Linked DNA regions of Homo sapiens. The protein of the gene in region 3 interacts with the protein of the main gene of each other region in a pairwise test. Each region holds a gene or a part of one and is shown on either strand. Other genes may lie near its edges. The genes, in order: MS4A13, OPRM1 and GJA4.

Region 1 (3,751 bases), on a different chromosome or scaffold from region 3:
TAGGGGAGAATTATTACTCAACTCTAATTTGTAAGAAGATAATTATAATCCCAGCAAATTTATTTCTGAATTTATATGTGAACTGATATTTCATATATTTAATCACATTTTTGATTACTCTTTAAAAATGACAGAGGACACATAAATTTTATTTTCATATAAACTTAAACAGAAAGCTATTTAATGTTTTAAGAGTTCCAGCTCTTTGCAAAGCAGGCAGTCTATGAAATATATAAGTGCAATTGGCTAACTTTAAAAAATACATTTTGGAGAAGTTTTGTTTTTTTTTTAAGAAAAAGTCTCTTTTTTGGTAACGATCATGCATTTTTATAGATTTAGAATTTAACGTTTCCCCTTGCATCAAATTTGCAAGAATGGTAATTTTCCAGAAATTCTTTGGATTTGCCTGGAGAAATATCTCCCACTAGACTGCAAAATCCCTTAGGGCCTGGAGTTTTTTTTTTTTTATTGTTTTATCACCAGCCTCTAATATGGTGCCCAGAATAGAGAAGGCATCCAGCAAATACCTCTTATATAAGCATACTGGTGTCAAGAATAGTGATTCCATGTGACTTTCCCAACTGTTAAAAAAGTAAGTGAGCTTGAAAAGTACTATCTCTTTTTAAATGATTGACTATTGTTTTATATAAAACCATGAGATAGCTAATTAGCCAATGCTTGTTAAGAACTGCCAGTGTGTGGAGAAGGACAAGATAGGTTTTCTTATTTAAAAATGATTCTTAATCTAGAATCAATATGAGTTCCAGGAGGTCAGACCCGCCTACCCCCTGCCCCCAGGGAAAAAAAATGCGAAGGATTGTGACATGTACATAATTCTGGAAAGAAGATTCAGAGTTTTCATTCTATGCCAAAATGGTCTGTGACCCCAAAGAGGTTAAGAACCTCTGCTGAACAGTCGTATAGGCGACTTAGATAATTGATCTATGCAACATTCAAATTCAGAAGAAAAGTTCACGAGTGGAAATGTTTTCTCCCCTTTGGATGTGAAAAAGCATGATACTCATAATTCCTTGGTGTTCATTAAGAAAGCTAAACTGTAACTTCACATGTTTATAACTTAATAGAAGAGACAAATTTATAATCATCCTACTGCATAAATGTAAGTGCAGTACTCTCTTTTTTCCTTTTAAACCTTACTTGGATTTCTCTATTATCCTGTGTGTGTTGGTTTAGTCTGTATCCCCATATCTCAGCACATGAAGGAACATGAGATCAGTCAAAATTTGTAGAAGACAATCAACATTTGAAAAAAAAAAAACTTTTACCCTTTTGATTTAACCAAGTCTGTCCCCCTTTAGATCCAATATATCCGTTAAAAAAATGAAATAGTTCATGATCTTAAATTTAGTTAGTCAAAGTGAAATCTTACCCCTAAAACGAGAGAATCTGCTGTAGAGATTTGTTAAAGAACACATGCCATACTGCCAGCATTTCCTCTAGATGATTTTCTCTTTAACCTTTGGTGATGTCTTTATTAGCAAACTTCTACAAAACAGTACAAAGCACATATACATTATTTTCTTAGAAGAAAATACGTAAGTTTGATCCTTTCCTTATTGTTCAGTCACCACCTCTCCAAATTCAGAAGCAATAGCCTTCTTTCTTCTTTCTAGGCCTTAATATTAGAGGCATCAACTTTCATCCATCTGTTCTGAATAACAGCCTTCATAACTGAAAAGTCTCTCTCTATGACTAAAACATATCGGCATTTTACAGCTATCATCTCTGAGTAGTAAATAGTGCCTACTGTTTACAGAGTATGATAGGGAGAGGAACACCGTAATCAGCCTCCGTGTCCCTTTATGGCTTCTGACACGAAAGCACTCCAGCAAAGCGACATCACTACCCTGCATTTTACTTGTTCAAGGTTCCAAGGAGTTTCGGGGGGCGCTCGTCCAGGACCCAGTCCGAGTTCTCACGCCAGCGCCCAGGCCTAGATGAAGAGGAAGATCCCGGCTGGCAACGCGCTCAGCGCCAGGTCCCCAGATCTCGCTGAGCTACCATCACAGGGATAGCCAGGAGCCCAGCACCCGGCCGGCTCTCAGGCTCCTCAGGGAGTGACGGTCTGCAATGGCAACGGTGTGCTCCTCTTGCGCCTGCGCACCCACTCAGGAACTGCCGGGGCGGAGGTAGTGCGTGTGCGCAGACTCACTAGGCTCCTGGCAGCCATGTGGTCAGACACCCGGTTAACTACGTTTTGGTGCCTCTAGGAACGGTTTCTGCAAACCTCTATTCTGAGATTGCCCATATTGGTGCATTTCTTATACACCCACCTGCTGCACAGTGACCAGGATCACTGAGGAGAAGTCCGCCCTTCACCTTTTCTGTCTTCAAAGAAAAATTTTGACCACAAGAGCACCTTTGGAAGGTGCACTTTCGAGTGAAGTGGCTAAATCAATGGCTCACTTTTTTTTTCTTTAAACATAAGTAACTGAAGAAGGAAATTAGTGATGAAAGTAATACTTAACAAGACACCAGAATGACTTTTTGATCCACTTGCTGAGGCGGGTTTACCTTTTAGGTGACACGTGGTGTTAGTTTTCTGTTTGAGGTGTAGACAGTAGTTAAAACAGTGTTTATGAAGAGGTGCTTTAGATGAGCAGTACAGACCATCCTCTTAGGCAGCTATCATGACTTACTGAGGCGTTTAAAGTACCTGGAGAACAGCCACTCAATGGCATTTCTCATTTATTCATGGAAAATTTAAATTGACATTGTGGAATAGTTAAAATTCCAGCTTGTAGTGTAAATTTTTAGTCAATGATAGCCAGTGAGTAAAACACGCAGAAAACAAGACAGATTTTTCTTTCATAAGGAAATTTTCTATGCTTTCAACACCTTTATTTGCAAAAAGCTAAATCATGAGTGTGTCTAAAAGCCATCAAGATCTTTTATAGCCTGAAAAATCAACTGTAAATTGAGAATCTTAATTTTTAGTCTCACAGCTAGCTTCCTTACATTGAGACTCCAAAGTCCCCTCAAATCAAAGGAAAAAAAAACAAAAAAAAAAAGCCCAGCCTCTTCTAAAGTCTTTACATTCTGTATTGGTCAGTATGTCATTGAAGGTAATAGTTTTATTCTTAAGTAATATACCACTTCAGTTTCTAGCATTATTATTATTTTGTGAGTTCCTTGTCTATGAGCAGACAGGGCTCCGATAATATTAAGCATTCTCTTTGCTGTAGAAAGAGGAACTGTGTCTTCAACCTCAGGGTTATGGATTTTTTAGAATCCATAGTAGTAAGAGCCAGTTCTGATGAGATGGACCGCTATTGTAACTTGCTGCCAAGACTGATTGATTATTTGTGAGAGAAGTGACATATTTCTTCATTTAAGCTTTGGCCAACAGTCTCTGGAAATTATCATGGATTTGGTCATTTTTTTGGACTGGGGCCAAAATGTGTTTTCAGTATAAACATAGGCAAAAATAGAAGAGTGAGCCAAACTATGAGACAGGCATGGTTCCTTGGTACATCTTATTTCTTCTGCTAATATCACAGATCAGTAAAAGCAACATTGATTTTCTCAGTACCTATAAACTGGATTTGGAAATTCAGAATTCACTTTAATTTTTTATCCTTTGGTTGTTAAAAACTGTATTCTTCAGCAATGAAGAGGCAATCAATCAGTCATGGTTTGACATCCAATATGACTTTTATTTCTCCATGTGGATCATATTGTTAATTTCTCTTGAATTAGTTCCCAGTATACAAAAGACATTAGTGAAAAT
Region 2 (3,751 bases), on a different chromosome or scaffold from region 3:
TATTCGCTCCCTATATACCTATCCTTTTGCAATGTGACTGCAGATCCTATCAGCAAGAGATGGAGTCTAATTTCTCACCCTTTGAATCTAGGTTGGCAGGATGACTTTATTTGACCTATAAAACCACAGAGTTGACCGTATGCCAATTCCTACTCTATGCCAAAAGACGCTTTCCTCTTTTCTCTCTCTCTTTCTTTCTCTTGGAATCTGTGACCACCATGAGAACAAGGCTGGGGTAACATGCTAGACGGTAAGAGTCCATGTGGAGCTAGTCATTCTTGCTGAGGCCATGTAGATCAGCTAGCTGACCACCCGCCCATCGGGCAGCTGCCCTCCGAGCAAGCCCAGCCAATACTGGAAGAACGGTCCAGCCAAGCCCAGCTCCAATGGCTGTTCTACAGAATTGTAAACTAAATAAATGGTTGCTTCTAGCCACTACATTTTGGAATGATTTGTAATGTAACAAAAGCTGACTGAGCAGCTCTTAACTGTGTAAGTATGACTCTAAGCTTATTTTGGGCACAGAATTTTCTCATTGGCTTATCAAATTACCTTGATAACTGCCAAATCGCCACTCCACTTTGCGCTGTATGGAAATTGCCTCAGTGGACAGTTGTCAGAATACAGACACCCTGGGAAGGTTTGATATTGGATCTCTGATCTGCAGAATATGAAGTTGACTAATGTGCTTGAAATGTGACATATAGAGTATAATATATTCCTCAAAGAAAGTACAAATACATAAGGCAGAACATAAACATCCACAACCAATATAAACTTCAAACAAGTAGTTGAAAAGTTAAATGCAAATCCTATTAGCTTTGTTTTCCAACATGATGGGTCATGATGTGAAACAACGACCAAACACCTGTTTATCACATTCTGGATTTGTACAACTAACTTAACATGTCCTATAGACACAGCCATCAAGTCTCCAATTTCTCCTTCAAGTCATTTTATTATGTTGATATATTATTGAAACTATCACTAGCAGCTTATGTATTGTTCCAGTTGTCTGGTTGTAACTGCTTTAATTCTAATGATGACACATCAGTGGAGATTAGCCAAAGGGAGCTTTGATTTATCTTAATTTTTAAATATGTCAGAGCATCTTTCCCTCTTTTCCTGGCAGCCTCTCTTCTGTGTCCAGTTCTCTCAGTTGGGCATTTTGGGACAGCAACCAATTCGAGGGCTAATGTGTTTCTGCTGTTATCTTACACTGATACTGCTTCATAGAGGCAGCGATGAAGATAAGGCCTAATTGGATGTATTTTTAAAGCAAACCTTTTAGTTACTTGGAACAGAACTCCTCCAATTAGCTTCTTTTCTCTTCTATCTGGCTGTACAATAGCCATACTGATGTGAAAATGCCGAATTTGGAAGGGAGTCAAGGGCAGTGTCGGGCAACTGAAGAATAATCATGCTTAACTCAGGAGAAATGCTCCACCAGACGGGCTGGGAGCAGTATTTCCACGAAGGCAGGACGAGTGAAGGATAGCTGGGAGGTCATATCTGACAAGAGGTCCTTGCAGTGGTCCAGGGTACACAACCAAGCAGCCTTGCTCTAGAGCCCAGCAAGACAGGGAAGGTATAGGTAGGCACTAAAGGAGAAAGAGTCAGTACTTTATAATGGCCATTATTTTGCTCCAATGGAAATATTTTACTTCAAAGCAAAATATTTTATCCTTAGCTGAGGACTAGGCATTTTAAGTTGCAATCTTTAACATGTTATCCCCAGGTTGGTGAAAATCTATTTAAATCCCTGCCCTTTTAAAGTTACTTACAAGATTCTAGCAGCCACTGAATAGGAGGGCTGCTTAGCATTAGGTTGGTGCAAAAGTAATCGCTGTTTTTGCAATTACTTTTTAAAAGTAGCTCCTAGTAAAAGGAGTAGGTTTAGCAGTCTTGATGTGGAAAAAAACGTAGAGAAAAGAAGCAGAGTCAAAACCATTTCTTTCTGGCATTCATTTCTGAAATGGAATTAGAACTGAGACATAATAAGTTAATTTCCCTTTGTCTGGAAGTGGGTCTGCCATCATTACCTCATGCTCTCTAGGGGGTGTGAGTTCCTGTGTTCCCTTGAGCATCACTGAATACCAGGGGTATGAGGATTAATGTCGCCCATGACGGATGTATCTGGGCCATATTACATTAGTCCTCTGGTCAATTAGAAAGGTTGAGCCTGGGCTGGGCTGGATGGCAGAGTGGGGTAAAGAGGGGACAGTGAGAGACAGGGTGTGGTCAAGAGACAGCAGGAGGAAGCCACTGCACCCTGTGGTGGCAAAGGCCTCCCCTAGCTCCTCAATCATTTGACTTGCTATTCATTTCTCCGGAGCCATCTGTCCTCACAGTCCTGACGCCTGACTCTAGGAACTTTAGCCAAGATTCTGACTCCAGCCTTTACTTCATAGGAAGTTTGAATTTGAATTCACTGTTAAAAAAATTATACAGGCTGTGATTTTTGGATGCTGGCATCATTATTTAAAATTTACTTACTTAGATTAATATTAAAAATTAAGCCATGTATTTGATTGATTTTATAGATCAGAGGTCAAATTTAGCCAACCAGTGGCTTAATCAAGTAATACTAACTTGGAGACAGCCTTTTCTCTTTCCTCCTTGTTGATTTCCCATATGATTATAATAGTGTGTATAAGTCTTGAATTTTCTGTGTAGGTCTGGGCACAGAAATACACCTTCCAAAAGCTAGTCGCTATTCACCCTATTATCTCCAACAAGCATGAGGTCTGTTAAAAATTGTTTAATCTAATAAAATTTATTAGATTAATATTCACATATTAATAATATATTATTCAGTCTAATATGTTTGATATTTGTGCTAGAGTTCAGGTAGCAAACCAATAGCTTAAGAAAAGTTAGGGATGGTCATTTTTTAATCTTTTCTCCTTTTCCATGATGCTAATTTTCTGTGAATATCTTGCATCCATGACCACAGTGGGCAAGGCACTCACCCTCTCTCTTTAATCACAGAACCAGAGCAAGACTGGCTTTTGAGAAATAAGAGGGGTATTGCAGCAACATCTATGAATTATATAATAATTCTGGGGAAAATGAAAAGGATTCTAGATCAGAATTATTTCTATAATGTGCTAAAGTCATAAATTTTGCATAGAAGTAAAGGCCATAAAAATAGTTATTTTGAATAGTTTCATGGATTTCTCATTGGTGTATCTTTATACCTAAATGAATATGTACAGTCAAATATAAAGAACACAGTTTATATAACAAACCTCTTCTCTAACACTAGAACCACAATTTGCTTCCCCTCTTCCCTCCATTCTCATCCTCTATAATGGATTAAACTCCTAGTTTAGCACAAAGCCTTATAATTTTTATGTCATCCCCAGTAGATATACCTAATTCTAGAGACTGCGTACCTGATGATTAGTTCTATCCACTGTATTGGCCGTGGAGGGGTGGTCTCTAGTGTTCTGACGAATTCGAGTGGAGTTTTGTTGCTCAATGTTGGAAGAGGTTGGGATACAGAACTCTCTGAAGCATCGTTTGAAGTTTTCATCCAGAAATGCATAAAGGACTGGGTTGAGGCAGCTGTTTGTGTAACCTAGAGCAATGCAGAAGTGCCAAGAAACAGTCTGGAACGTAGTTTCTGGGATTGTAACCAAGGCTTTAATGATGACGTAAATGTGAATGGGAGTCCAGCAGACGATGAACACAGCCACCACCACCAGCACCATCCTGGTGATCCTTCGAAGATTCCTGTCCTTTTCTT
Region 3 (3,751 bases):
GGTAGTGAGCAGAGGCTGCAGTGGGGGCGTGGTGAGAACCAGCCTCCAGGGGCCTCGGTTCTCATGCCCTCAAGGGTCAGAATTAAGTGGGGCAGTTGTTAGCTTCAGAAATCCAGGAGACTCAGTTCAGCCTGGCCCTGAGGGAGAGGCCTAGAGGGGAAGCCAGCCCAGCCGGATCCCTCAGGGCAGCTAGCCCTGAAGTTCTCAGGTCTGCGTGTCCCCAAAGATGTCCTCCTGCTGGTCCTGAAGACAGAACCCTCAGGGACCCGGCCCTGGGGCCCAGGGAATCCAAGGACTAAATCTTGCTGTGGAGGAACAGGGACTTCTGTGCCACCAGCCCCAGGCCTCAACAGCCCCCTGCCACCTTCCCTTTCCTCAGCTGCGCCAGCCCCTACCACCCTCTAAGAACAACCCACAGACCCTTTTTGTTACAGTATCACAATGTTTTTAGCCACCACTCACTTGAAAAACTTTATGTACCACTATTACACTATGTGCTTTGATCACACTGTATGCCATCAACCCCACAAAGTAGATACTATCACTATTCTCATTCTGTAGAGGAAGAAATTGAGGCACAGGGATTTGAGTAACTTGCCTAAGGGTACAGGAGTCAACAGCAAAGTCTCAGCTCCTGGGCTCAGCCACCAACAACGTCTCAGCACTCCGAGGGCAGTGGCCACAGTCTCAGAACCCCACAGCTCCAGGCCCTCGAGCCACACTCATGCCGCCCCTCTACCTAGAATGCTCTTCCCTTCCACTTGGCTAATGGAGGGGGAAAAGCATTTCCTCTCCTCCAGGAAATGTTCCTAACCAAGTCCCCTGGGAATCACCCAGTACCTCTCAGGAGAACTTTCCACATTTATTATCTTACCGTTATCCAAGGGCTGATATGCTCAATCCCTGCACCAGCCAGTGAGGGAGGAGGCCAGAGACCAAGTTTGGCTGGTTCCTCAGGGTATCCCCAGGTCCCCAAGCAGCGTCTGCAGCACAGCAGATGCTCACTGATGCTCATCCACCTGTGATGCCTGAATGCATGAAGGCAGGCTCCGCATAGCCCTTTCATTCCTATGGATGTCCCCCACACCACCCAGCCACCATTTAGAGGCATAAGAACGGGGTCCAAGCTAAAGGTCAGGTGGTTCCCCCACCCCCAGTCTCAAGGAGTCCATGGGAATTGCTTAATGGCCTCTGATTGTGTAGCCTGCCCAGACATGGGGATGTTTGAGAATTCTGGAAGAACGTGGGCTGGGCGTGGATAGAGACGCCTGCTCCACCATGTATGCTGGAGGTGTGGATTACAACCCCTGTCCCCCATTGGAGCTTCCCGCGCCGTAATTAGCCTTGATCGCCTCATCCTGGCACACTAGGGCCAGCCACCTAGCAAATGAGTGGTCCCCACACTCCATCCCCATCCGCCCACCCCTCACAGCCCCGCAGGCCAGTTGCCCAGATCCACAGCCCTTACTGCAACCCCTTCAAATCCAGCCACCCTGAGAGATCCTGGCCTGGGAGAACTCTCCTTCCCTGGCCAAAGAAACGACAGGAGAGTTTACTGTCTGGAATACCTGGTGGAGAGAGAACAGAGGAGAGGAAGGGTAGGTCAGCCCCTCTTGCCCCTCCCCACCGCAAATCACACAGGCCCACCTCCCCGGAGTGGGTTTAGGGAGTCTGCACCTCCCAGTCCCCGCCCCCGCCCTCTCTCCAGCGCCCGCCGCCCTCCCCGTCGCGTTTCCTGCCCCCACCCCGCCCCTCTGCGCTATTTAAGGCGCCCCCGCCGCTCGTGCGGTCCAGCAGGGCTCCCGCGGGCGTCACTCCGGCCATCGTCCCCACCTCCACCTGGGCCGCCCGGCAGGCAGGCGGTGAGTCGGGGGCTAGGAAGGGACCAGGGGCGCCACCTGCTCGCGGGAGGCCGGGAGGAGTCTTGGGTCCTCCGATGCCGGGACGGGGGTTGCTGCGGAACGCCCGCCGCGACAGAGCCGCGCTCACCCAGGTGGCCTTGGCCAGGCTCCCACCCTCTTTCCATGGAATCCTTGTAACAACCCGAGGCGGGAGGAATACTATTGTTTCCACTCTATCGTGGAGGAGACTGAGGGGCCCAGAGGTTGTTCCTTATCCAAGGGGCCGCAGTTACTAAAAGGCAAGATTTGAACCCAGGGCCGCTTCCAGAGCCTGGCTCTAAACAGCTTTGCACTTGGGAAGAGGCACCTCCCCCTTGGGAACTTTGTGGCCTGTGCCTCACCCTGCAATGACAATTCCTTTCAAGAGTCTAGAATTTGCCAGCATCAGCTTTGGAGGTGGAAGGGGGTGGGAGTGGAGGTGGAGGAAGAAGACAGGACCAAATGTCCCTCCTCAAGTGGCAGGTGGTCATTATTGCTGACCGGTGGAGCTAAAGGATGATGCTGCCTTCAGCTCCTAAAACCCCTTCCACTACCCAGCCCCTGCAGGCTCAAAGATTAGAGTGAAGCCAGCTGGGTAAGATATGAGGCGGGGAGCAGGGACCTGAGGCTTTGAGCCCCCTAAGAAGCAGAAGATAACACCTCTACCATCATCACTAGCTCCCACTGTCTGGGGGTAGCCAGCCTTGGGCAAAAGGGAGGAAGGGCTTAGCCCAGCTGCACAACTTTGGATAAGTTCCTCAAATTCTGTTCCCATAGGCAAAGGAGCCTCAACTCCACCCAGATTTCCTTGGCCTGTGTCCATCCTGGGGCAGTGGCTCGGGGACAAGAGGGACATAGATGTCTGATTAGGCAGGGACCTTAGCCAAAGCAGAATGAGACCATACAAAGAGGTGGGCAGCCATCATCCAAAAATCTGGGTTGGGTCCTGCCTGCACTGCTGAGTGGGAGCCTCCAGGCCAGTCCTTCCCCTTCCTGAGCCTGGGTTTCTTTGTAGGTAGAACGGGCGTGGCAGACCTCCCTGCAGGCTTGTTGCTGGGCGAACGAGAAGGATGCCATGCTGACACACTGACGTGCTCTGTCTCCTTGCAGACGGAGGCCCGGGAGCCATGGGTGACTGGGGCTTCCTGGAGAAGTTGCTGGACCAGGTCCAGGAGCACTCGACCGTGGTGGGTAAGATCTGGCTGACGGTGCTCTTCATCTTCCGCATCCTCATCCTGGGCCTGGCCGGCGAGTCAGTGTGGGGTGACGAGCAATCAGATTTCGAGTGTAACACGGCCCAGCCAGGCTGCACCAACGTCTGCTATGACCAGGCCTTCCCCATCTCCCACATCCGCTACTGGGTGCTGCAGTTCCTCTTCGTCAGCACACCCACCCTGGTCTACCTGGGCCATGTCATTTACCTGTCTCGGCGAGAAGAGCGGCTGCGGCAGAAGGAGGGGGAGCTGCGGGCACTGCCGGCCAAGGACCCACAGGTGGAGCGGGCGCTGGCGGCCGTAGAGCGTCAGATGGCCAAGATCTCGGTGGCAGAAGATGGTCGCCTGCGCATCCGCGGAGCACTGATGGGCACCTATGTCGCCAGTGTGCTCTGCAAGAGTGTGCTAGAGGCAGGCTTCCTCTATGGCCAGTGGCGCCTGTACGGCTGGACCATGGAGCCCGTGTTTGTGTGCCAGCGAGCACCCTGCCCCTACCTCGTGGACTGCTTTGTCTCTCGCCCCACGGAGAAGACCATCTTCATCATCTTCATGTTGGTGGTTGGACTCATCTCCCTGGTGCTTAACCTGCTGGAGTTGGTGCACCTGCTGTGTCGCTGCCTCAGCCGGGGGATGAGGGCACGGCAAGGCCAAGACGCA

The links.
Region 1: the proteins of GJA4 (region 3) and MS4A13 interact in binary tests that used the Homo sapiens proteins (3 or more experiments, as listed by UniProt).
Region 2: the proteins of GJA4 (region 3) and OPRM1 interact in binary tests that used the Homo sapiens proteins (3 or more experiments, as listed by UniProt).

What each region holds. Positions count from the first base shown.
Region 1 is NC_000011.10:60,513,724-60,517,474, reverse strand, and holds the start of MS4A13 (membrane-spanning 4-domains subfamily A member 13), read right to left. Parts: upstream 2,084-3,751; 5' UTR 1,868-2,083; intron 1,507-1,867; 5' UTR 1,391-1,506; intron 1-1,390. UniProt on the Homo sapiens protein: May be involved in signal transduction as a component of a multimeric receptor complex.
Region 2 is NC_000006.12:154,091,120-154,094,870, reverse strand, and holds part of OPRM1 (mu-type opioid receptor), read right to left. Parts: coding exon 3,399-3,751; coding exon of another isoform or gene 3,384-3,398; exon of another isoform or gene 3,063-3,383; coding exon of another isoform or gene 2,982-3,062; exon of another isoform or gene 2,914-2,981; intron 1,602-2,913; coding exon of another isoform or gene 1,425-1,601; exon of another isoform or gene 1,351-1,424; intron 662-1,350; exon of another isoform or gene 553-661; intron 1-552. UniProt on the Homo sapiens protein: Receptor for endogenous opioids such as beta-endorphin and endomorphin. Receptor for natural and synthetic opioids including morphine, heroin, DAMGO, fentanyl, etorphine, buprenorphin and methadone.
Region 3 is NC_000001.11:34,791,207-34,794,957, forward strand, and holds the start of GJA4 (gap junction alpha-4 protein), read left to right. Parts: upstream 1-1,792; 5' UTR 1,793-1,862; exon of another isoform or gene 1,863-2,140; intron 2,141-2,895; exon of another isoform or gene 2,896-2,990; 5' UTR 2,991-3,007; coding exon 3,008-3,751. UniProt on the Homo sapiens protein: One gap junction consists of a cluster of closely packed pairs of transmembrane channels, the connexons, through which materials of low MW diffuse from one cell to a neighboring cell.